Linked DNA regions of Homo sapiens. The protein of the gene in region 1 purifies or fractionates together with the protein of each later gene. This does not show direct contact. Each region holds a gene or a part of one and is shown in the gene's direction. Other genes may lie near its edges.

Region 1 (3,500 bases):
AGCTCAGAATAAATGCTCAATATTTGTTAGCTATACTTACTATTATTGTCTGAGCCTTGGTTTATATCATCTGTCAAATGGGCGTGATACTATGTCATAGGGTTGTTGTAAGGGTTAAATGAAATAATTAATGTGAATTTATCCAACAGTGTGTGAAGGGTGTAAAGTACTCAAAGTGAGTCAATTGAAATGGAAAATTTCACAAAATACCTGCATGTAAAAATCAGCGGCTGAGCAGGTGGATCAGCTAACATTTTTGGAAAGTTATTCTAAAAGTACTGTCAGAGGAACCTTTATCTACTTATGGAAAGTGGGGCTCACTGCCCATGGGGATACCCTGTAGTTATTTTATGTTGTTGTATTAGTTGCCTATTGCTGCTATAACAAATTTCACAAACATAGTGGCTTAAAACAACCCTAAGATGTTATCTTGCAGTTCTGAAGTTCAGAACTCTTAAATGGGTTTTGTAGAGCTAAAATCAAGGTGTCAGCAGGGCTCTGTGGTTCCTTTTGTAGGCTCTTGGGAAAATGTCTTTCATTTTCTGACTTCTAAAACCTGACTGCATTTCTTGGCTCTTGGTTCCTTCTTCCATCCTCAAAGCCAGTAACAGCATCTTCCAACCCTTCTCCCCATCCTGACTCTCGTGTCTCCCTCTTACAAAACCATACCTAGAAAATCTGGGCTAATCACTGCATCTCATAATTCCTAAGTTAATCACATCTCCAAAGTCCCCCCGTTTTTTTTTTTCAAGACAGAGTCTCGTTCTATCGCCCACGCTAGAGTGCAGTGGCGTGATCTTGGCTCACTGCAGCCTCCGCCTCCCAGGTTCAAGTGTTCTCCTGCTTCAGCCTCCCAAATAGATGGGATTACAGCCATGAGCTACCACACCTGGCTAATTTTTTATATTTTTAGTAGAGATGGGGTTTCACCGTGTTGGCCACGCTGGTTTCGAACTCCTAACCTTAGGTGATCTGCCCACTTTGTCCTCCCAAAGTCCTGGGATCACATGCGTGAGCCAACCGCACCCGGCCCAAAGTCCCTTTTGCCATGTAAGGCAACACAGTCTGGGGATTAGGCCATAGACATCTTTGACATATTATTCTATCTGCCAGAAATATTAGAGTATTAGATTGGGCATGATGGTAAGAAAAACTATTTAGAAAAAAGAAAGAAATATTAGAGTATTAGAGAAAATGATCTAAATCAAAGAGTTTTAGCTCACTTCTGTTTAGGGCTTCTCCCTGTACCCTCCCAGTTAGGTGAGTTTGTTTTCACATCTCTTTTTTTCTTTTTTTTTTTTTTCCCAGACAGTTTCTCTGTGTTGCCCAGGCTAGAGTGCAGTGGCACAATCTCTGCTCACTGCAACCTCTGCCTCCCAGGTTCAGGTGATCCTCCTACCTCAGCCTCCCAAGTTGCAACACCATGCCCTGCTAATTTTTGTATGTTTAGTAGAGACAGGGTTTCACCATGTTGGCCAGGCTGGTCTCAAACTCTTGACCTCATGATCCACCTGACTCAGCCTCCCAAAGTGCTGAGTTTACAGGTGTGAGCCACCATGCTTGGCTGTTTTCACATGTCTTAAAGACCAAAAGCTCAAGACCAGAGGGGTCAAGGCTATGGATCAAATGCTTCTTGAAACTCAGTTCAGAAATGGCTCCTTCCTGTCCTTTTTGGGCTTTCTCCCTCCCCTTGAGTAACCCTCAAATTTGTTTCTTTTTTAGATTTTTGTAAAAACTTTTTTTTTACAGAGACAGGGTCTCGCCATGTTGTCCAGGCTGGTCTCGAACTCCTGAGTTCAAGTGATCCTCTTGCCTCAGCCTCTCAAAGTACTGAGATTATAGGCGTGAGGCACCACGCCTGGCCAGTAACCCTCAACTTTGGCCCTTAGAACAGTCACTGTTGCCCCATCAACAGCATTTGTTGACTTTTCTAGCTGCTTCTCCTCTTCCATTTCTAGTGAAATAGAAAAAATGCCCTCATGTCCAGAGCAAGATCTCTGTGAAGCAAATCACTCTAGTGACGTTTGACCTCCCTGAGATTCCCAGACGGTGTCTGTACTAGTTTCCTATTGCTGCTGTAACAAGTTAGCACAAACTTAGTGACTTAAAACACAGATTTATTATCTTACAGTTCTGGAGGCCACAATTCTGAAATGGTTCTCATGGGGCTAAAAATCCAGGTGTCAGCAGGGAGAATTTGTTCCCCTGCCTTTTCCAACTTCCAGAGGCTGCACGCATTGCTCGGTTTGCTTCCATCTTCAAAGCCAGCAATGTCAGGCTGCATCCTTCTCTCACTGCCACACCTCAGATCTCTCTTCTGCCTTCCTCTTCTTCTTCTTCTTCTTTTTTTTTTTTTGTTTGAGACAAGGTTTTGCTCTGTCGCCCGGGCTATCATGCAGTGGTGCGATCACGGCTCACTGAAACCTCAGTCTCCCGGGTTTAAGTGACCCTCTTATTTAGGCTCCCAAGTAGCTGGGACTACAAGGATTGTGCCACCATGTCTGGCTAAATTTTTTTTTAATTTTAATTTTTTGTAGAGACAGGGTCTCTCTATCTTGCCCGGCTGATCTTCGACTCCTGGGCTCAAGCAATCCTCCTGCCTTGGTTTCCCAAAGTGCTGGGATTACAGGCATGAGCCACCATGCCCTGACCTCTTCTACTTTTTTTTTTTTGAGACAGAGTCTTGCTCTGTTGCCCAGGCTGGAGTGCAGTGGTGTGATCTCAGCTTACTGCAACCTCTGGCTCCTGGGTTCAAGCGATTCTCCTGCCTCAGCCTCCTGAGCAGCTGGGATTACAGGCGCGAGCCACCATGCCTGGCTAATTTTTCTATTTTTAGTAGAGATGGGGTTTCACCATGTTAGTCAGGCTGGTCTCGAACTTTTGACCTTGTGATCTGTCCGCCTCGACCTCCCAAAATGCTGGGATTACAGGCACAAGCCACCGCCCCTGGCCCCTCTTCTACTTTTGAGGACGCTCGTGATTACATTGGCCCACCTAGATAATCCAGGATCATCTCCCCTTTTTTAAGGTCATCTGATTAGCAACCTTAATTCCCTTTGCCATCTAACATCACATATTCCCAGCTTCTGGGAATTATGATGTAGACATCTTTGGAGGGCAATTATTCTGCCTGCCACAGGACCTGAGAAGGAGTTCCAAATAGTGTCCGCCTGGGCTGCCTCATTCTTAATAACCACCCCCTTCCAGAATGTGCACAATGGCCCACTCAAGAGAGAACACCTGTTAAACTCTTCAAAATTTCTCCCGCAGCTCTCAGGTCTCTCAGTCCCTCTGTTGGTGGAAGGATCTGAGGGCAATAGAGCCTGGAACTGCACACTTTATTTGTTAAGTTAATTTTTTTCTTTTAAATCAGAGGAACATATAAAAAGGTGCACAAATCATGAGGGAAATCTCAATGGAGTTTTACAAGTGAGCACTCTCCACTGTCATGTAACTGCCCCCAAGATCTGCACCCATAGCCCCCTTTGGACCCCAAATAA
Region 2 (3,500 bases), on another chromosome or scaffold:
TTACGGTCATGAGCCACTGCACCCAGTTTGCAGATTCTCATTGCTAGTGACTGGGTTGAGAGTGTGGGATGTGAGTGTGGGGTATTAGGTTCCTCTTTCCCTTTGACCCAGAACAAAGCTCTTACTGTTTTAAGCCCTGTGGGATTAATCTTAGAGTGGCTTAAGTGTAGGATATTTGGATTTGTTTATTTGAGGCCTTTTATGCTATTATAGTAAAAGGGCCAGCAATTTTAGGCTGGGTATTAGTGGTTAACATATGCTTCTACCCTGCAGCCTTTGTCCCTCAGAATTGGCTATCTCTTCAGACCGTGCTTAATGAAAGTTCTTATTAGTCAAGCTACTCAGTTGCAGATAACAAAAAGCTACTCTGACTAGCCTAAGCTGAAAGGGGTGTTTGTTGACTCTGTGATATTGTAAAATATATATCTGGTTTGTATCCCAGTTTGGAGCTTCCTGGAGGGTGGCGTGCCCAGGGTGGGTATGGAAGCTCTTCGCTCCTTCCCACATGCTTTGCCCTGTGCACCTCTTCCTTCATCTGTATCCATTGTGACATCCTTTATAATAAGCCAGTAAACCTAAGTGTTTCCCTGAGTGCTGAGAGCTGCTCCTGCAAATTAATGGAACCCAAGGAGGGAGTCATGGAAACCCTGATTTATAGTCAGTTGGTCAGAAGCACAAATAAAGCAACTGGGGGCTTGTGACTGGCATTGAGAATTGGGGGGACATGCTCGTGGGACTGAGCCCTCAACCTGTGGGGTTTGACACTCTGTCTGGGTGGATAGTGTTGGAAATAAACTGAATTAGAGGACATCCAGCGTGTATCCACTGCAGACTCAATGGATTGATTGGTGTTGGGGAGAAATCTCCACACATTTGGCCACGGAAATCTTATGTGTTGATTATCCTATATTGTGACAGCAGAGGAGAAAGTTTTGTTTTTTCCTCACAGACTGTAGCTGAAGAGTCCTGGAGTAAATCAGTTTCAGATGGGACTCTATCCAGAAGCCTAAATTATGTCACCAGTATTTTCTGTTTTTCTTTCTCTGTTTTTTTTTTTTTTTTTTTTTTTTTTCAGAGACGGGGTCTTGCTGTGTTTCCCAGGCTGGTCTTGAACTCCAGGCCTCAAGAGATCCTCCTGCCTCAGCCTCCTGAAAGCTGGGACTACAGGAGTCCACCACCACACCTGGGTACTTTTTTTTTTTTTTGAAACGGAGTCTCGCTGTGTCGCCAGGCTGGAGTGCAGTGGTGCAGTCTCGACTCACTGCGACCTCCACCTCCCGGGTTCAAGTGATTCTCCTGCCTCAGCCTCCCAAGTAGCTGGGACTACAGGCATGCACCACCATGCCCAGCTAATTTTTTTTTTTTTTTGTATTTTTAGTAGAGATGGGGTTTCACCATGTTGGCCAGGCTGGTCTTGACCTCTTGACCTCATGATCCACCCGCCTTGGCCTTCCAAAGTGCTGGGATTACAGGTGTGAGCCACCACGCCTGGCTGCACACCTGGGTACTTTTTATTTTTGGTAGAGATAGAGCCTCGCTATGTTGACAAGTCTGGTCTCAAACTCCTGGGCTCAAGCAATCCTCTGTACTTGGCCTCCCAAGGTGTTGGGATTACAGGCATGAGCCACTGCGACCCGCCTGTTTATTGGTTTTGTTAAATGCCTTGTCATGAGGCATTAAAAAGCCCATGATGGAAAGAAGATAGCCCCAGAGAAGGGATTCCAAATTCTTCACAAATTCTTCAACAGATGAGTGGATTAAAAACGACATCTATCCATAGAATGGAATGTTATTTAACCATAAAAAGGAATGAAGTTACTGATACATGCTGTGACATTGATGACCTTTGGAAACATGCTAAGTGAAAGAAGCAAGTCACATAAGGTCACAGTACAATTCTATTTATATGAAATGTCTAGAATAGGCAAATCTACAAATATGAATTAGAATAATGGCTGCCAGTGACTGAGAGGAGAAGGGGGTGGGGAATGACTGCTAATGAGTATAAGGTTTTAAGGAGAGTTGGTGAAAATGTTCTAAAATTAGATAGTGGTGATATTTGCACAACCTTGTGACTAACATAACACTGAATTGCACACTTTAAAAAAGTGAATTGGGGTGGGTGCGGTGGCTCACATTTTTAATCCCAGCACATTTTGGGAGGCTGAAGCAGGAAGATTGCTTGAGCCCAGTAGTTTGAGACCAGCCTGAGCAATATGATGAGACCTCATCTCAACAGAAAATTATAAAATTAGCTGGGCGTGGTGGTGCACACCTGTAGTCCCAGCCACTTGGGAGGCTGGGGCAGGAGGATTGACTGAGCCAAAGAAGTCAAGGCTGCAGTGAGCTGTAATTACACCACTTCACTCCAGCCTGGGCAATGAGAGTGAGACCCTGTCTCAAATAAGTAGATAGAGAGATAGAGAATTGTATGGCATGCGAATTATCTTCATTAAGCTGTTTTTGTTGTTGTTGTTGTTTTGAGACGGAATCTCACTCTGTCACCCAGACTGGAGTGCAGTGGTGCGATTTTGGCTCACTTTAACCTCCGCCTCCCGGATTCAAGCGATTCTTGTGCCTCAGCTTCTCAAGTAGCTGGGATTACAGGTGTGTGCCACCACACCCAGCTAATCTTTGTACTTTTTTAGTAGAGACAGTGTTGGCCAGGCTGGTCTCGAATTCCTGGCCTCAAGTGATCTGCCCACCTTGGCCTCCAAAAGTGCTGGGATTACAGGTGTGAGCCACCGCACCCGGCCCATTAAGCTGTTATTTTAAAAAGTCTGCCTAAACCTCTGAACTAGACAAACATGGGGCATATTCCAAGCAACTTAGCCAAGTTTAAAAGATCAGTACAGATTTCAGCTGATGCTTGCCTCAGGGAAGCTAGATTTGGAGTTTGAGTTCAGCTGTGATTAACTGCATGTTAACAGAAACAAAACACCAAACTCTCAAGAACATAACAGAATCCAGAGTCTACAACACATCATCTACAATGTCCAGGATATAATCCAAAATTCTTAGACACAAGAAATGGCCTGGGCATGGTGTCTTATGCCTGTAAACCCAGCACAGCACTTTGGGAGGCTGAGGCAGGCAGATCACTTGAGGACAGGAGTTTGAGACCAGCCTGGCCAACATAGCAGAACCCCTTCTCTACTAAAAGTACAAAAAAATTAGCTAGGCGTGGTGGTACACAGGAGGCTCAGGAGGCTAAGGCACAAGAATTGTTTGAACCCAGGAAGTGGAGGTTGAGCTGAGATCGTGCCACCACTCCAGCCTGGGCAACAGAGCAAGACTCTGACTCAAAAAAAAAAACCACGAAAATTTTAAAATATATTTTTACAAAACAGGAAAATATGATCTGTGTTCACAAAAAAAGGCAATGAATGGGCCCGGCACAGTGGCTCACGCCTGTAATCCCAGCACTTTGGGAGGCTGAGGTGGGTGGATCACGAGGTCAGGAGTTCGAGACCAGCCTGACCAACATGGTGAAACCCCAT
Region 3 (3,500 bases), on another chromosome or scaffold:
GACTCCAGGACGTGCTGCACAGGGGAGGCGGCTGGGGCTGCACCTGGGCTTGCTGTGGGATCTGGGCAGGGAGAGGGGGTCACTGAGGCCCCTCGGCTCTGAGGTTCCAGAAATATTCTTCAAGCAAATCACTATTTTCTCACCCTCATCCCAAACCCCTGGGTCCAGGGGAGACTAACCCCAGGAGCATCCAGAATAACGTGCGGGAAGCTGTAAGTGGCCGGTACAGCCTCTTCTGCCTGGGCTTCGGTTTCGACGTCAGCTATGCCTTCCTGGAGAAGCTGGCACTGGACAATGGCGGCCTGGCCCGGCGCATCCATGAGGACTCAGACTCTGCCCTGCAGCTCCAGGTGCCAGTGTGCCCCAGGTGGGCTGCACAGAGAAGTGGGCAGTCATAAAGCCCAGCCTTTATGACACCCCCAACCCTGCAGGACTTCTACCAGGAAGTGGCCAACCCACTGCTGACAGCAGTGACCTTCGAGTACCCAAGCAATGCCGTGGAGGAGGTCACTCAGAACAACTTCCGGCTCCTCTTCAAGGGCTCAGAGATGGTGGTGGCTGGGAAGCTCCAGGACCGGGGGCCTGATGTGCTCACAGCCACAGTCAGTGGGAAGCTGGTGAGTGTGGCCAAAGCCACCCTGGAGGGGAATGGCAGCCTCCACCTCTGCAGCCAGAGGGGCTGGACTCAAATCCCAGACCTGCCCAGCTCCAGCTTTCCCCTCTGCTGCCTGTGGATGACACAGGGGCATGGCAGGGATTCAATGAGACAATGGAGTGATTCTCATGAGACCAGCACATACAGGCTCTCGGCAGCCGGTCTGTGCACCTGCAAGCACAGGTGAGGGCAGGGATTCCTCCCTAGTTGTCATCCCTTCCTGTCCTGGTACCACAACCCTCTCAGGTTGCAGTCAGACAGGGAGGGCTGCTCCTATTTCACAAATGAGCAGACTGAGCTCCAGGCAGGGCAGGCAGCTTTCCCCGGGCCCCACTGCAACCAGGCCAAGAGCCCAGCTTGCCACGTGGCACCCTGTCCTTGCCCAGCCTTCCCTGCCTCCTTCCAGGGACCCCCTGTCATTTCCACAAAGAGAAACTGAGCACAAGCTCTGCGGCAGGGCCTTCTTCAGGCCCTGGGATGCAGCAGTGAATGAGGCTGACCCCTCCGTGCCCTCATGGGAGAGACAACCCAAGGACATATCACCACACAAACCAGCTACAGGCTGGGATCTAACCCTGGACTCAGGAGAGCAGCACCAGGAGCCCCAGCCTGGCCTGGGGATCAGGGAGGGCTTCCTGGAGGAGGCCCAGCAGAGACAAAAGGATAAGTAGGAGGTGGGAAGAGTCCAGATGGGGCAATGGAGGAATATGTTAGGCCCCTGTGGCATGAGGGCAGCGTGTGTGAAGAGAATAGGAGTGGGCGTTGGGGGCCCATGGCCTTGTTTCAGGACAAGTCCCCAAGTGTCATGACTGTTGGTACGGTCTGCGTGGCCACCCTGCCTGGCTTCAAACCCAGCTCTGCCACCTCCCAGATAGGAGACATGGAGAAGTCACTTAACCTCCATCTACTGCAGTTTCCTCCTATGTAAACATGGGAATAAGTCGCATGCCCCCCTCATAAAGTCACTGTGATTGATGTCCAGTGATAAGCACTCCATACATGTCAGCAGGTGATTTAGCTTGGAGGCCGTGGGTTCCCAAAGTACAGAACCCAAGGTGACTCAGGGGAGTTCACAGACAGACATGGCTTGTTTTAGTGGTTATTTACTTATTTTAATGTGTATTCTGAAAAATATGACCTGAACTTCAGACCTAAGATTTTTTTTTTTATTTTTTGAGATGGAGTCTCGCTCTGTCTCCCAGGCTGGAGTGCAGTGGTTGGATCTCGGCTCATTGCAAGCTCCACCTCCCAGGTTCACACCATTCTCCTGCCTCAGCCTCCCAAGTAGCTGGGACTACCAGCATCCACCACCACACCCGGCTAATTTTTTGTATTTTTAGTAGAAAGGGAGTTTCACCTTGTTAGCCAGGATGGTCTCGGTCTCCTGACCTCGTGATCTGCCCACCTTGGCCTCCCAAAGTGCTGGGATTACAGGCGTGAGCCACCGCACCTGGCCCAGATCTAAGATTTTATGGACATAAAGCCAAGTAAAAATTGTTAGCTTACTTAAAGTTCATTTAAGGAAAAATATCAATTAAATAGCTGTATGTGTGGATGGGGCAAAATTCATGCAGGTAGCCTATGTGTGCCAAAGCTTTGGAAAGCCAGCCAGGCTCTGGGCGAGAGACAGGCTGCTCCAGTGGGAGCAGACCGCAGATCTGATCCGCACTGTGAAAAGGTCTCTTGGCCACTCAGGGAGCTCTGGTGGGAGAGGCCTGGGATTCCTCTGCCCTAGGAGCCCATTTCCCAGGCAGCGAGCTAGGTCAGTCTGAGACCACAGGCCCCTCCCTGAGGGAGGAGGGAGCAGGTTCACACAGAGCTTGGGTGCATGCTTCCCTGTCATTGTCCCACGGTGGCCAGCCGCAGAGGGGCCAGCTTGGACAGGGACAGCCGTTGGGGTGGATGGGGCCCCAAACCCGGAGCCATGACATCTGAGTTGTGTTCTCAACTCTGCCTCTGACCCCTGGGAAGGTCCTTCCCTCTCTGTCCCTTTCCCTCAGCTTTGGGGGTAAGGGCAGGCTGTAGCTAGACCCTTCCTGCTCCACACTGCACTTGCAAATCCTTCCTGCTGCTGTTTCTACACTGGCCTGGGGTTCCCATCCCTTTCTTCCAGAGGTTTGGCTGATCTGAGTCCTGGCGCTGTGCCTGCCTTATTGTATCTGGGCTACTTTGCTACCTTTTCACCTCCTTCTCATCCCTGTATGCTCTGTGACTGAGCCCCTTGCACCCCTAAGCCCCCTCCTTACCCCCACTCAAAGGAAATGCAGTCCCCACAGTCAGTGTGTGGGACCTGCCCCAGCCCCAATCATGGAAGAGCTCAGAAGTGCCAGGCAGATGCAGATGTCCGGCCCTCACTGCTCCTGCCCTGGCTGGGCCCCTCTTTCCAGCCTACACAGAACATCACTTTCCAAACGGAGTCCAGTGTGGCAGAGCAGGAGGCGGAGTTCCAGAGCCCCAAGTATATCTTCCACAACTTCATGGAGAGGCTCTGGGCATACCTGACTATCCAGCAGCTGCTGGAGCAAACGTGAGTGCATCAGCACCTCCCTAAGCCTGTCGCTAGGGGGCAGGCACAGGTGGCACGGTACAGCGCCTAAGCATGGAGAGAGGGGGGTCTTGGCATCATGTCCAAGCTCCAGATTCTCCCAGAGGGACCTCCCCAGAAGGGGCTGGATGGAAAATCTGTTCCCGAATTCAAGGATCTCCTGAGCTCTGATGTGCTCCACCTACAGTGTCTCCGCATCCGATGCTGATCAGCAGGCCCTCCGGAACCAAGCGCTGAATTTATCACTTGCCTACAGCTTTGTCACGCCTCTCACATCTATGGTAGTCACCAAACCCGATG
Region 4 (3,500 bases), on another chromosome or scaffold:
TAGTGCAATGGCATGATCTCGGTTCACCAAAACATCCGCCTCCTGGGTTCAAGCGATTCTCCTGCCTCAGCCTCCCGAGTAGCTGAGATTACAGACATGTGCCACCATGCCTGGCTAATTTTGTATTTTTAGTAGAGATGCGGTTTCTCCATCTTGGTCAGGCTGGTCTCGAACTCCTGACCTCAGGTTATCCGCCCACCTTGGCCTCCTAAAGTGCTGCGATTACAGGCATGAGCCACTGTGTCCGGCCAAGATGGGGTCTGATTATGTTGCCCAGGCTGGTCTTGAACTCCTGGGCTCAAGTGATCTTCCTGCCATAGCCTCCCGAAGTGCTGGGATTACAAGCATGAACCACTATGCCCAACCTGTATTTTTGTTTTTTGTTTTTGAGGTACTATATATGTAACACAAAATTCACCCACTTTAAGTGAACAATTCAGTGGCATTTAGTACATTCACAGAATTGTGCAACCATCACTGCTGTCCAGTTCCAAAACATCTTTGTCCCCGCAAAAGGTGACCCCATCTTCATTAGCACTAACCCCCTATTCTCCATTGCCCAGCCCCTGACAATCACCAATCTGCAGTCTGTCTCTATCCGTTTTCAAGTTTTATAGGTAGAATCATGCACTATGTGGCCTTTTGAGTCTGGCTTCTTTCACTCAGCATGATGCTTTGGGGGTCATGCATGTTGTAGCCTAAATCAGCACTTCATTCCTTTTTATGGCTGAGTAATATTCCACTGTGTGGATGCACCACATCATCCATTCATCTGTTGATGGACACTTAGATTGGTTCCACCTTTTGGCTATTATGAATCATGCTGCTATGAACATGAGTGTACACATTTTTGTCTAAACACTCATGTTCAGTCCTTTGGGGTACACATCTAGGAGCAGAATTGCTGGGGCGCATGCTTGTTGTATATTCTTGATCATGCTGGTCACCACCTAACGTTATTTGTTGTGTTTCTCTGGTGCCTTGAGGTTGGAAAGCCTGTCTCTCTTGTGCCCTCTTGTGTGCCTGGAACATGAATGACACAGAAGGAGGAAGTGTCCCAGAGACGTGGCTGAGAGGGAGGAAGGGAGGGATGGGGGTGTGCAAAAGCTTATTGCTCTCTGAGGCTTGCAGTCTGGCAGGTAGGAATTCCCTTCTATGGGATCAGGTCGATCTTTTGCCTTTCCAGTGAGGCTTGTGGGGCTGCTGGGGGGCAGTGGGGGCTGGCCTTAGTCTCTAGCTGCCTTTCTAGCCTGCCAGGCAACGCCCGCATCTGCCTTTTTGTCCCACGAAGGTTTTGTCTTTTGGCCAGGGGCGGGGGCAGTTCCTGTCTTCCCCCTGGCCCTTCCAGCGGTACCACAACTCAAGAAACTGTCCCCAGGAGGGACTGCGCTCCCCCACCCCCGACCGCCCCCAACGTTATATAACTTGTTTGTTCCAACTTCTGTCTTCTGCAACCGAGGGGGAAAAAAGAAAGAGAAAAGCTTATTCTCCTTCCTTCCTATCTCGAGGGATCAACAAAAAACCCGTTGCCTAGTAGAGGTGGTCATTAATGACTGAGCCGAACCTCAGGGATGGACAGAGTGGGGCTGCCCTGGCTGGGGTGTGCGGAGAGGAGGTGGGGTCCTTGCTGCAAGCACAAAGGACACTTGTTCACCAGCTGGCCTCCTCCCAGCTCGGGCCGCGGGGTCTAGACTCCTTGGAGGGAAAGGAGGCTTGGGCCACTTGGGGTGTCGCAAGGGGAGGCAAACCCTCTGGGGAGTCGCACCTCCCCAGCTAAAATTCTGTCACTGTGAGGTACCTGACCGGCAGAGTTTTGGAGGAACCTTCTGGCCTTGCAGCCTCTCCGACATGGGCCTTTGGCATCCACGCTTTTTGGCCCACGCTCCCTGGAGACGCCTGGGTAGGGCCCAGGCTCACTGAGTCATGCTGTTCCTGGGGGTGAGGTGGGGGGATCTGGGTGAGGGATGTGCCAGCTTCAGGCATTTGCATAAGAAGTGGTGGCTAGGCTGGGTGCTTTGGCTCACTCCTGTAATCCCAGCACTTTGGGAGCCCAAGGCAGGCAGATTACAAGGTCCAGAGTTTGAGACCAGCCTGGCCAACATAGTGAAACCCCCTCTCTACTAAAAATACAAAAATTAGTCAGGTGTGGTGGTGGGCGTCTTTAATCCCAGCAACTCTGGAGGTTGAGGCAGGAGAATCGCTTGAACCTGGGAGGAGGAGGTTGCAATGAGCCGAGATCCTGCCACTGCACTCCAGCCTGAGCGACAGAGTGAGACTCTGTATCAAAAAAAAAAAAAAAAGAAGTGATGGCTGGGACGTTGTGCCCAGGGGCTTTGCTGCCTGCTGAAAGTGTTTGCATGGAAAGTTGTGGCCGAGACGCTGCGCCCGGTGGGTTTGTCACAGTCAGTCTGGCTGGGTGGCCTTTGCCTGTTGAAGCTTTCTCCACAATCTAGATCATCTCCACCAAGCCCAGAGGCCTTGGAAGGGTCCAGCCCCCCAGCTCCTGCTAGGAAGACTTAGGGGAAGAGGTGGCTTCCCAAGGAGGTTCTTGCTACTTTGGGGAAGTTCTCATTCCTTTGGCCTCTTGCCCCTTTCTTTTTTATTATTATTAATTTTTTTTGACGTCACTCTGAGCTCAGGCTGGAGTGCAGTGGCATGATTTTGGCTCACTGCAACCTCCGCCTTCTGGGTTCAAGTGATTCTCCTGCCTCAGCCTCCCAAGTAGCTGGGACTACAGGCGCCCACTACCATGCCTGGCTAGTTTTTGTATTTTTAGGAGAGATGGGGTTTCATCATGTTGGCCAGGCTGGTCTCGAACTCCTGACCTCAGGTGATCCACCTGCCTTGGCCTCCCAAAGTGCTGGGATTACAGGCATGAGCCAGTGCGCCCGGCCTCATGCCCCTTTCAGAAGGAGGATTTTGACCCTTCCAAGACGTGGACTCAAGTCCTTCTCCTGGAAAATGTGGTCAGATATGGCGGCATGAGGTGTCTCATCATACCCATGGGTGACTGTGGCTCCCTCTTTATGGGTTGTGGCTGTGACAGATTCCTCATCTGGGAAATGGGGCTCCAGGCCCACCAGGTGGGGGGTGTCTGGGAGGAAACGAGTGGGGAGAGGTCACATGTACCTCATCAGTGTTACTGTGGCAGTGCTGACGCCCATGATGGGGACACTGCCATCCTTCTGCCCGCCATGCCCGCATGGGCCTTGAGGGGATCGTCAATGCCAGCAAGCCTTGATGTGGCGTGCGTGTGTCAGGCAGGGAAAGGAGAGGGTGAACTTGAGCCATTGGGAAGACAGTAGTGCCATGACTTGGGCCGTAAGAGGGACAGCAGCAGGGGCAGCGAGAGAGTAGAGCACGTCCAGCGTGAGCTGGAGAGGGCAGGTTCCGCCAGGAGTAGGCCTGGGAGCAGGAGCTCGGCAGGGCGGGGGCAGGGGCGGCGGGGGGTGGCGCGTCTCAGCAGGGATGGGGGCAGGTGGAACTGGGCCAGCCCAAGA
Region 5 (3,349 bases), on another chromosome or scaffold:
CGAGTCTGCGTATTATCATCCTGGGCCAGGCACAGGCCAGCGTTGGGGAGGTGCTTTGTGAGAGTTTGAGTAAGGGAAGAGCGAGGGCAAGGGTCAGCAAATTTAAACAGTAAAGATTTTAGGCTTTGTGGACCATACAGCCTCTGTCAACCTGTCGCTGGACCCAGAAGGCAGCCAGAGACCATACGGAAGCCAGCAGGCGTGTCCATAAAACCTTATTTACACAAAGGGGCAGCCGGCCGTAGTTTGCTAACCCTTGGTCTAGAGAAACAACAGAATACATTCGATGGCAAACAAGTGATTTTAAGGCCAAGGCTTTCTTGAGAAGGGCCATGGCTTCCAGGAAATTGCTGGTAACAGAGTAGGAAAAGGGTTCAGAAATGAGCCCCCAGGTGAACCTCGGCAGATGTGACTTTGAAGATAAAACTTCTGGAGCCCTGCTGACCACACCCCATGAGGCTTCCTGACACTGGCCATGAGGGCCTTGACTTGGGAGGCGGACAGTATCGGGTGAGGAGTGACAGTGCCCAGGCCATAGGGTCCTCAATCCGGCTTCCTGTCACTCCGATTTAGGGAGAGAGAGGTACCTTGTTTAAAGTTGAACCTTGTCTTCAGGGGATGGGCCACCCAGCAGTGACCCAGGCGAGTTCCACAGCATGTTTTGGGGCTGATCACTTAATGCTGCAGTGGCACAAGTGCCAGTGAAAGAAGCGTTGACAGTGAAGTGATTGGGGCAGCTTCTCGTGGTGCATCCAGGAGGAGGTTCTTGTCACTATGTCCTTTCGGTTCCTATAATATTGAGTTTTCATGGCTCACATGAATTATCCTTATGACCTTTGTAATAATTCCAAACCTAAATGTTTAGCCAGGTAAGAGACTGCTTTTCAGGGGGAGGTGACACATGAGGCCTGACAATGTGAGGGGGTGGGTGACCCTGGGGGCTGTCCATTCCCACTGTGGCTGAGGTAGGAGTTTCTGCTCATTTAATTCAGAGCAGCTAGGCCAGGCAGCCTAAACCAGGACAGCAGGTGCTGCTGCTGGGTGAGGACAGGGATCCCCTAGTCTTTCCTCAGGCTGCCTGAGTTTGGGCATCAGGGCTGGAAGTGGGATGGGACACCAGCAGGCCTCTCCTTTGGCATTCTTGATGGGGACAGAGCCAAGATGCACACTACCCAGTGCTTTAGTGTGCTCACTGCAGCCAGGCCACCTAGGCTCACAGCCTAGGCTTGTCACTGATAAGCTGTGTAACTTTAGGCAAGTTACTTAATCTCACTGTGCCTCAGTTTCTTCATCTGTAAAATGGGGATGATAAAAGCTCCCACGCTGAAGGTTTGTTGAAGTTTTTGGCACACACGAGCGTCCCGTGAAAGTCAGCTGCCAAGAGAAGCCCACAGAGCAGAGGGTCAATGATCAGGGTGAACCGCCCTGAGCCCAGTCCCAGGACCTCCTGCTGGTCCCCCTCATGTTTAAGCTCCACACCCCAATTACATGGAGGACTTAAGAATGTTCCCAGGGTAGCACCAGGTCCAAGGAAAGGGAATGAGCTGCCTGGTTTCTCCAAGGTCAGCAGACAGAAGGGGCCGCACTGTGGAAGAGTTGGACCCCAGCAAGAGGGAGTTCTGGGAGATGGGCCATCTTTCCTGGCCACTTTGCCCAGGCTGCCCCTCTAGCAGCCAGAGCCCTGGACTCCTCAACCCCTTCGTCAGTTTCCCTTTACCCTGCCCCAAAGCCAGAAGCCATGGACGCTTGTGTCAGGCAAAGCAGTTTCCCTTGTTGACACCTGGCACCTGACACAGCCTGTACCTCTTTGGGGACCTTCTGAGGGGCTAGGACCAGACCTCTGGCCCCTGCTCCCCTGTACAGAGCACAGGGTGAGAGGCAGTGTGATCAAGGAACTGTTTGGAAGGTCAGCGCTCATTTTTCCTTGAATAAATGAAAGTCGTGGCTTCCAGGCCATGGAGTGTGGACCCGGGGAGGCCGCAGAGGTATTTGCCTGCAGAGCGCTCCTCCTCACCCTCCAGGGCAGGTGTGGCCTTGTCTCCAGCCTGGTGAGGACAGGCGCTGGTAGCAGGATAATTCCCGGGCTGGACGGAGCATGAGGCGACGAGAGCAGCCTGCTTGGCTGGGCCCCGCTGGGAGTTGGGCCACTAGGCAGCAGGTGGAAATGGCAGTGGCCTGTGTACACCGAGGTAGCATGTATTTTCTGAACCCTCGTATGGGTATGTGGGGATGTGCTTACTTTTTGTTGTGAACCGACAGGTAAAGATCATATACATTCTGAACAAGGCCACGTGATATGGCTCCAAACCAGTCTGTGCCAGGGGTACTCCCCACACACCCCTTCTGCCACCTCAGATGCTCTCCTGCCCTCCTCCCACAGCTCCCGTGCAGCTGGGGAAGCACGGTGGCACTGTGATGGCCTGTCCTGGCTGCTCTGGGCCTGTGGCCCAGACAGACTCCCTGCAGGTGGCCTGCCAGCCCTCCTGCCTGTGTGTGCCACCAGCCCTGAGTGTGTCTCCACTTTGCCACTTGGATGCCCAGTGGGGCATTTCCATCATGGGGGAACCCCTTCCTTCCCCTTGTAGAGGGAAGGCACACCAGCAGCATTTCAGATTTCCATGTTTCAGCCGGGCGCAGGGGCTCACGCCTGTAATCCCAACATTTTGGGAGGCTGAGCCGGGCGGATCACGAGGTCAGGAGATCGAGACCACGGTGAAACCCCGTCTATACTAAAAATACAAAAATATTAGCTGGGCGCAGTGGCGGGTGCCTGTAGTCCCAGCTACTCGGGAGGCTGAGGCAGGAGAATGGCATGAACCCGGGAGGCGGAGCTTGTCGTGAGCCGAGATCGCGCCACTGCACTTCAGCCGGGTCGACAGAACGAGACTCAGTCTTAAAAAAAAAAAAAAAAAAAAAAAAAGAGATTTCCATGTTTCACTGTCTATGAGGAGTCACCATTTTCTGTGAAAATGAGGTCCTATGCTTTATTAAGAAAATTTGATTTTTAAGAAAAATATAAAAATTTTTAAGAAAGTAGGATTTTTTTTTTTTAACTACATGGAGCAAAGAGTGCCAGACAGCATTCTAATGTACAGAAATCCAAAAAGCATCCTGCTCTCCCAGGCCTTCTCCTGGCTCAGAGTGGGGGCAGCTGGGATCACGTGTGCTGGGAAGGGCCTGGTTGGACTTCTTTCTCCCTGATGGTGGCCACCACGAGGCACCTTGGCAGAGAAGGAACAGGGGAAGCTGAGACCAAACACAGAGATGACACAGCTCCTCTGAAGCTAGGCTGGAGGGGGAGAAACTGCCTTGAGGGGTGTTGGGCCTCATAAAAGCCTGTTTGTCTACT
Region 6 (3,500 bases), on another chromosome or scaffold:
ACAAAGTGCATCAGAGCCTAGAAGAGGCAAAATCCAGAGGGAAGAGAAAGAAGGACTCAAGATGTGGATTGCCTTATCTTTGAAGTTCCTACATGTAAACATACTGTGCTGTTGTTACCTCCCATCCTAACTTTATATAAACTCTGCCCCAGCTAAGGTGGCATAAGTAGTCTCATGTCAGTCAAATGGTACATATGCCTGGATGACTGTAGTCACATATGAGACACAATTAACTGAAAAAGTCATTTGAATGTAGGACTTGGAAGCCTTGAAAATAGTACCTGAAAAACAAAGATAAGGTTTGGTGCCTGTGATCTCATTCTTAGTCCTTAACAATGATGGTAAAAAAGGTGGTATTTTGTAGTGATGAAAAGCAAGGGCTTTGAAATTAATAGACAAAGGTCTGAGCCCCAGCCTTGCCTTTCACTGTTTGAGTGACCTTGGACAAATTACTTAAGTTCTTTCAGCTTCAGTTTCCTCATCTATAAAATAGAGATAATAAGAATACATAGTAATACCTCAATAACTATCAGCTGCTATCATAAGCAAAAATGCTGAAGTCATGCTACAGTTCATTGAAATTATAATGATCGAATAGGGAAATTAATTTAAAATTAGATTTGATTCATTATTAGTTGTCTTATTAAAAGAGATATTGGTTTAGAAAGTGAATGTGTTGACTTTTTTTGTTTTTGTTGTTGTTTAGGGATAAATTACATTCATAGCATAAAAGGCTGACTGCCATCCTATTTCTTTTTAATGATTTCATGGCTTACTAGGGAATTACCATTCATTTTAAAGGTATGGTAATGGAACTGTGGTTTTGTTAGAAGAAAAAAAGGGTTCCTATCTTTTAGAGATACATACTCAAGTATTTATGAATGGAATATGATGTCTGAGACGTGCTTTAAAATAATTTGATGATACTGGGGATAAGAGTGTGTGGGGGTACAGATGAAACAAGGTTGGCCTTGAGTCGATCATTGTTAAAGCTGGTTTGATGGGTACACAGAGGTTCAGCATTTTCTTCTCTCAACCTTTGTGTGTGTTTGGAAATTTCCAAAATTGAGAGTAGAAATGTTTTTAATTTTATGGTTACTTCGTGGGCAAAAATCTGAGATCATATAAGAAGTTTTGAATTTAGAAGAGGGTAGCCTTTTTGCTCAGACTCCCATACCATGACCCGAGTTCTTTACATTGCAAACAAAAAGTCATTATGCTCTCTGAAAACCCAATCAAATATAAAAAAATAATAAAAATGTCTGTGAAGCTTCTACACACCCTAGCCATTAGCCTTTCATTTTCCTGTGTCCAAATAGGATAACACATCCCCAAGGATCACATAGTAGATGTTTAATAAATGTTTGCTGAATGAATTAATGGACTATCTATTCTCTCATTTAAGTTCAAACACATTCACTTTGCACCTTCATTGCATGTTGCTTCCTAGGGGCCATCTACCCTGATAACACCACAGATTTTCAAAGAGCAGATGACAAAGTATATCCAGGAGAGCAGTATACATACATGTTGCTTGCCACTGAAGAACAAAGTCCTGGGGAAGGAGATGGCAATTGTGTGACTAGGATTTACCATTCCCACATTGATGCTCCAAAAGATATTGCCTCAGGACTCATCGGACCTTTAATAATCTGTAAAAAAGGTACATCTTCTCCTTATTGCACATGCTATATGACCAAAAGACAGGGGCAGGGCAGTTTGTCTTTTAAAAAGAAATCAAGTCTTCTGTGCTGAGATTGAGCAGGTAAGGTAGAGAGGTGGTAAGTAGAAAAAAAGGAAGGGAAGAGCCAGGCAGGACTAGGAGAAGAAGGGATAAATAGAACAAGCATTCCTACGGGGAAAATGCCAATGAAGGTAATGTGAAAGAAATATATTCTCTCAGGGTTCAGTTTGCTGTATCTAACTTCCAACAGTGGTGCTGAAGAGACATATGACTTTACCAAATGTGACTACCAAAAGGGCACTCCACGGTGATAGATCTGTAGTTACTCATACTATATTGGTAAACATAATATCATAGTATTTATTTCTAACATCATGAAAAAGACAACGGAGCTCAAGAGCCTGAAATACAATTCTAACTTGAACAATCGTTACCTGTAAAGACTTGTCTCTGTTTGTGGCTATATGCACCAGAAAATAGACGCACAACTTTGAATTCCAATCTTCCCATTTGCCAAAAAGCATTTAATAGTTATGTGGTCAGTGGACATCCAGACACAGGAGTGTCTTCCAAGCACCAGATACTGATCATAAAAATTCCCTGAGTGTTTCTGTCTGTAAAACAGGAGTGACTGGTCCAGACTTGTGATTTATTCGAAAAAATAAATACTAACATTTTTAAAAACTATAAATCACCTGAAAACATAAATCAAAATACATGCTAAAAGTTTAGTCTTGCTAAAATAGTAACTTTAACTCCAGATTCTCTAGATAAAGAAAAAGAAAAACATATTGACCGAGAATTTGTGGTGATGTTTTCTGTGGTGGATGAAAATTTCAGCTGGTACCTAGAAGACAACATTAAAACCTACTGCTCAGAACCAGAGAAAGTTGACAAAGACAACGAAGACTTCCAGGAGAGTAACAGAATGTATTGTAAGATTACAGCAGACATGTTAACTTTACTTTTTTTTCCCTTGATCCATTAATTCTGCTAAGCTTATTCCCTCACATAAATAAGTACTGTGTGTCTAGTCTGTGGTCCTTATAACAAAGCATATTGGATGTGCAATTTGATATTCAGCTAAGTAAGTCAGAATAAAAACTCTAAGCCAGGTAAAGCCAGATACACCAAACTTGTTCCCCAACTGGTAAGGATAAAGCATCAATTATGGTTTAATGCATATGTATGTGACATTAATATATTTATTTATCCACTAGACTCATTCTAAAAATTATTTGAGGCAGCTCCAAATTATTAAACTAAATGCTTAAAACCATATTATATTTTAAAGCATCTAACTATATTTAAGAAAATAGTTCAAACCACGAGTTCTGAAAGGTATTCGTTTTACATACTATGTTGCCCTCACTGGGCCCCTTAGTCTGCATCATTCGTTTCTACATTTCAGTTCACTTTACTTTTCTAGAAATGCTTTTTTTACAGTTTAGACTTTTTCTTAATTCTCAGACACAAAATAATGAGCTTAGTAAGATTATCTATTTCTCATAATTTGCATGAGAAACAGAGTCCCTTAACAACAACTAGACCAATAAGTAGATATTTTCGTTTATTTGTTTGTGTTTAACTTCTTCAAAATAACCTGTACTCAGAAACCGAGAGCACAAAAATAACGATACTACCAAAGTAGAAAAATAAACTAGTTAACAAAGTACAGATTTTGTTTCCAACTTTTACTTATATCTGGGTGGAAGGTCCTCTTTCCATACTTTAATCCTGTCTCTGTTGTGTACTAACAAAAATAGTTGTTATAAAAAGATACTCAAAATTCTAGCCTGAGCAGGTTTGATTTGGT
Region 7 (3,500 bases), on another chromosome or scaffold:
ACTATTTCAGATTTCAAGATGGAGGAAAATGGGGGCTCCTGCGTTCGCCCTGCATAGAGTGACATAAGTAGATATCACGGGATTCTTGACCCCTAGCCAGTGGCTCATCTTGTTTGCTAGGCTTTCTTTGATTATTTTTTCTTACTGACTTTATCCCTTGATTTAAATCCCTCTATAAATATTAAAGGGAATAAACGAAATAAATAAATGAAATCCAGGGATGTTAGAAGATTTTCTTTAGTTTTTCACTTTCTTTCCACTCATGATAATTGAGCATAGACAAACATGCAGTTCAGCCGAGCGTGGTGGCTTACACCTGTAATCCTAGCATTTTGGGAGGCTGAGGTGGGAGGGTCACTTGAGGTCAGGAGTTTGAGACCATCCTGGCCAACATGGCAAAACCCCATCTTTACTAAAAATTGGTCGGGCGTGGTGACACATGCCTGTAATCTAATCCCAGCTACTCAGGAGCCTAAGGCATGAGAATCGCTTGAACCTGGGAGGTGGAGGTTGCAGTGAGCAGATAATGGGCCACTGTACTCCAGCCTGGGTGACAGAGCAAGACTCTGTCAAAAAAACAAACAAAACATGCAGTTCATCTTTCCCTCAGTAGATATCGAAAGAGTGGGATAAAAGGAAAAATATATATGTGTGTGTGTATATGTATACATATACACACACACATATACACATTATATATACACATTATATATACACGTTATATATAATTTTGTATGTATATAAAATAATGTGTATATATGTTTGTGTGTGTATATATATATATACACACCAAATATATATATATATATACACACACATACACCAAAGACTATAAGTCATTAAGATATCTTTGCATAAATCACTATTAAAACATGGTGGGGGCCGGGCACGGTGGCTCACGCCTGTAATCCTAGCACTTTGGGAGGCCGAGACGGGCGGATCACGAGGTCAGGAGATCGAGACCATCTTGGCTAACACGGTGAAACCCCGTTTCTACTAAAAATACAAAAAATTAGCCGGGCGTGTTGGCGGGCGCCTGTAGTCCCAGCTACTTGGGAGGCTGAGGCAGGAGAATGGCATGAACCTGGGAGGCGGAGCTTGCAGTGAGCCGAGATCGCGCCACTGCACTCCAACCTGGGAGACACAGCGAGACTCCGTCTCAAAACAAAACAAAACAAAACAAAAAAACATGGCAGGGTTTTGTTGTTGTTTTTTGTCTTTTTTTTTGAGACAGGGTCTCGCTGTGTCTCTCAGGCTGGAGTGCAGTGGCGCGATCTCGGCTCACTGCAACCTCTGCCTCCCAGGTTCAAGCGATCCTCCTGTCTCAGCCTCCCTAGTAGCTGGGATTACAGGTGTGCATCACCATGCCCAGCTAATTTTTGTATGTTTAGTAGAGTCCGGGTTTCACCGTGTTGGCCAGGCTGGTCTCCATCTCGTGACCTCAGGTGATCCACCCGCCTCGGCTTCCCAAAGTGTTGGGATTACAGGTGTGAGACTCCAGGCCTGACCAAACATTGTGGCTAGAGTAGTATTTACATCTTCTGCATTTAGCAGTGGGAATTTGTGACTGTCCAGGAAACAAAACTTCAATAGAAACTGGTACCCCTCTCCAAAACAGCATTTTGCCTACTCATCATTTTGTAAAGGCTAAATAGGCAACTGTGTAACCTGCGGTTAATAGAGTATTAAGTTAAATTCTTTTGAGCTAATGAAGTCATGTTCTTCATGTTTGTTGTTATCAATGGCTATAACCCAGCTGATTCTACATCTATATACCCATTGTTTGTTGTTTAAAAAAGAAAGAGTTGTTTCATCTGATTTTTTTTGAGCCCAGACTTGGGCATTTATTATCTTCTAAGCTTGAAACTGTTTCACCTTTAGGGTTTGGCTAAGCCAAGTCCATTTTTTTTTTTTTAGCAAGCATATTAAAATATTTTATACAATATTTTGGATTTGGATGGAGAATAAGCAAGATCTTTAATTTTCTTTAGATTTGACTTCTAGTGCCTTTTTAAAAACGTTTATTTTAGGTTCAGGGGTACATCAGGCTTGTTACAGAGGTAAGTTGCATGTTGCAGGGGTTCGGTGTACAGATTATTTCGTCATTCAGGTAGTAAGCATAGTACCTGATAGGTAGTTTTTTGATCCTCACCCTCCTCCCACCCTCTACCCTCAAGTAGGCCCCAGTGTCTGTTGTTCCTTTCTTTATATAAAGCATATCTAGGACTGCATTTTTATTCATTAATATATTTATATACAAAATACTTTATAATTTCTTACATTTTATACTCCTTTGGATCTGTAACATTATTATCATTGTGCAAAAAATATTCTCACATTATATAAGCTGTATTTTATGGTTACAGAGCTCCATTTTATTGTTAATGATTTCTTTTGATTTGGCTGTTAATTTCTTTTGATATCTGAACAGTGTATGGGTTTCGACAGACCATGATGAAATTGAGAATGTGGCCAAACAATTTGGTGCACAAGTTCATCGAAGAAGTTCTGAAGTTTCAAAAGACAGCTCTACCTCACTAGATGCCATCATAGAATTTCTTAATTATCATAATGGTATGAATTTGATTAATAGTTTATTCAAACCTTTATGTACTTTTCTACTTCCTTTATTATCTTATAAGACTTGTTTTAACATTTGAATTCCAAACCTTAATATTACTTGCTTGCAAGGAACTTTTTTTTTAAATATCCTTTTCATTTCTCTTGTCTTTTTAAGAGGTTGACATTGTAGGAAATATTCAAGCTACTTCTCCATGTTTACATCCTACTGATCTTCAAAAAGTTGCAGAAATGATTCGAGAAGAAGGATATGATTCTGTTTTCTCTGTTGTGAGACGCCATCAGTTTCGATGGAGTGAAATTCAGAAAGGAGGTAATCTCTTTTCAGTCTTTATTTTAGCTGATTTTATTGAGAATCAATTTTTTTGTATATAAATATCCTTTAGGCATGAGGAGAGTAAAAGGGGAGCTGTAAAAGAGAGTATTTGACTCATTACTTTAGTAGGTAATGACATTTACAATCAGCTGTAAATCTGTTATCGAGCCAACACAGCTAGACCAAATTAATTCTTTGCTTTACTCTTTACAAAGGGACATTCTAATCCTCTTATTTCTGTTTGCCTTTTGAGGCAGATATGCTGTTTTTCTAGATCAAATACTTTTATGTTTGTTCTAGACATGTTTGATGAACTCCATACAAGTCATATAGAGATAGAAAGCATCCACCAAAGTGTTCTGAAGGATTTCAAGAATGACATTTTGAAGTTCTTCCCCAAATTCCTAACTCCATATATAAGAAGGGTTCCCTAGGGTTTACTAGGCATTTTGCCTGCCATGTCCAGTGTGCTATAAATCTTATCCAGAGAATTATTATAAACACTGTGTTTTTCCATTCAGTAATGTACATTTTAGTTGTTTCGTAGGGATTCCATTTTCTGTTGAAATTTTCCATTTTTTTATCCATTTTAAAAAAAGGTCAT

Evidence for each region.
Region 2: the proteins of MATN2 (region 1) and SGF29 purify together in Homo sapiens (co-immunoprecipitation; 2 studies listed by BioGRID and IntAct, with this or other methods). This does not show direct contact.
Region 3: the proteins of MATN2 (region 1) and ITIH4 purify together in Homo sapiens (affinity purification with mass spectrometry; one large-scale study listed by BioGRID and IntAct). This does not show direct contact.
Region 4: the proteins of MATN2 (region 1) and KLHL26 purify together in Homo sapiens (affinity purification with mass spectrometry; one large-scale study listed by BioGRID and IntAct). This does not show direct contact.
Region 5: the proteins of MATN2 (region 1) and POC1A purify together in Homo sapiens (affinity purification with mass spectrometry; one large-scale study listed by BioGRID and IntAct). This does not show direct contact.
Region 6: the proteins of MATN2 (region 1) and CP purify together in Homo sapiens (affinity purification with mass spectrometry; one large-scale study listed by BioGRID and IntAct). This does not show direct contact.
Region 7: the proteins of MATN2 (region 1) and CMAS purify together in Homo sapiens (affinity purification with mass spectrometry, with the first as the bait; one large-scale study listed by BioGRID). This does not show direct contact.

Annotation. Positions count from the first base shown.
Region 1 is NC_000008.11:97,872,064-97,875,563, forward strand, and holds part of MATN2 (matrilin-2 isoform a precursor), read left to right. Parts: intron 1-3,500.
Region 2 is NC_000016.10:28,556,920-28,560,419, forward strand, and holds part of SGF29 (SAGA-associated factor 29), read left to right. Parts: intron 1-3,500. UniProt on the Homo sapiens protein: Chromatin reader component of some histone acetyltransferase (HAT) SAGA-type complexes like the TFTC-HAT, ATAC or STAGA complexes.
Region 3 is NC_000003.12:52,820,673-52,824,172, reverse strand, and holds part of ITIH4 (inter-alpha-trypsin inhibitor heavy chain H4 isoform 1 precursor), read left to right. Parts: exon of another isoform or gene 1-61; intron 62-168; coding exon 169-350; intron 351-431; coding exon 432-617; intron 618-3,042; coding exon 3,043-3,182; intron 3,183-3,387; coding exon 3,388-3,500. UniProt on the Homo sapiens protein: Type II acute-phase protein (APP) involved in inflammatory responses to trauma. May also play a role in liver development or regeneration.
Region 4 is NC_000019.10:18,643,528-18,647,027, forward strand, and holds part of KLHL26 (kelch-like protein 26), read left to right. Parts: intron 1-1,110; exon of another isoform or gene 1,111-1,139; intron 1,140-3,500. UniProt on the Homo sapiens protein: May play a role in endo(sarco)plasmic reticulum (ER/SR) mitochondrial signaling. May be part of the ubiquitin-proteasome system (UPS) and affect ubiquitination and degradation of target substrates in cardiomyocytes.
Region 5 is NC_000003.12:52,078,075-52,081,423, reverse strand, and holds part of POC1A (POC1 centriolar protein homolog A), read left to right. Parts: intron 1-3,349.
Region 6 is NC_000003.12:149,208,330-149,211,829, reverse strand, and holds part of CP (ceruloplasmin precursor), read left to right. Parts: intron 1-1,450; coding exon 1,451-1,663; intron 1,664-2,445; coding exon 2,446-2,619; intron 2,620-3,500. UniProt on the Homo sapiens protein: Multifunctional blue, copper-binding (6-7 atoms per molecule) glycoprotein. It has ferroxidase activity oxidizing Fe(2+) to Fe(3+) without releasing radical oxygen species. It is involved in iron transport across the cell membrane.
Region 7 is NC_000012.12:22,052,718-22,056,217, forward strand, and holds part of CMAS (N-acylneuraminate cytidylyltransferase), read left to right. Parts: intron 1-2,431; coding exon 2,432-2,574; intron 2,575-2,737; coding exon 2,738-2,893; intron 2,894-3,500. UniProt on the Homo sapiens protein: Catalyzes the activation of N-acetylneuraminic acid (NeuNAc) to cytidine 5'-monophosphate N-acetylneuraminic acid (CMP-NeuNAc), a substrate required for the addition of sialic acid.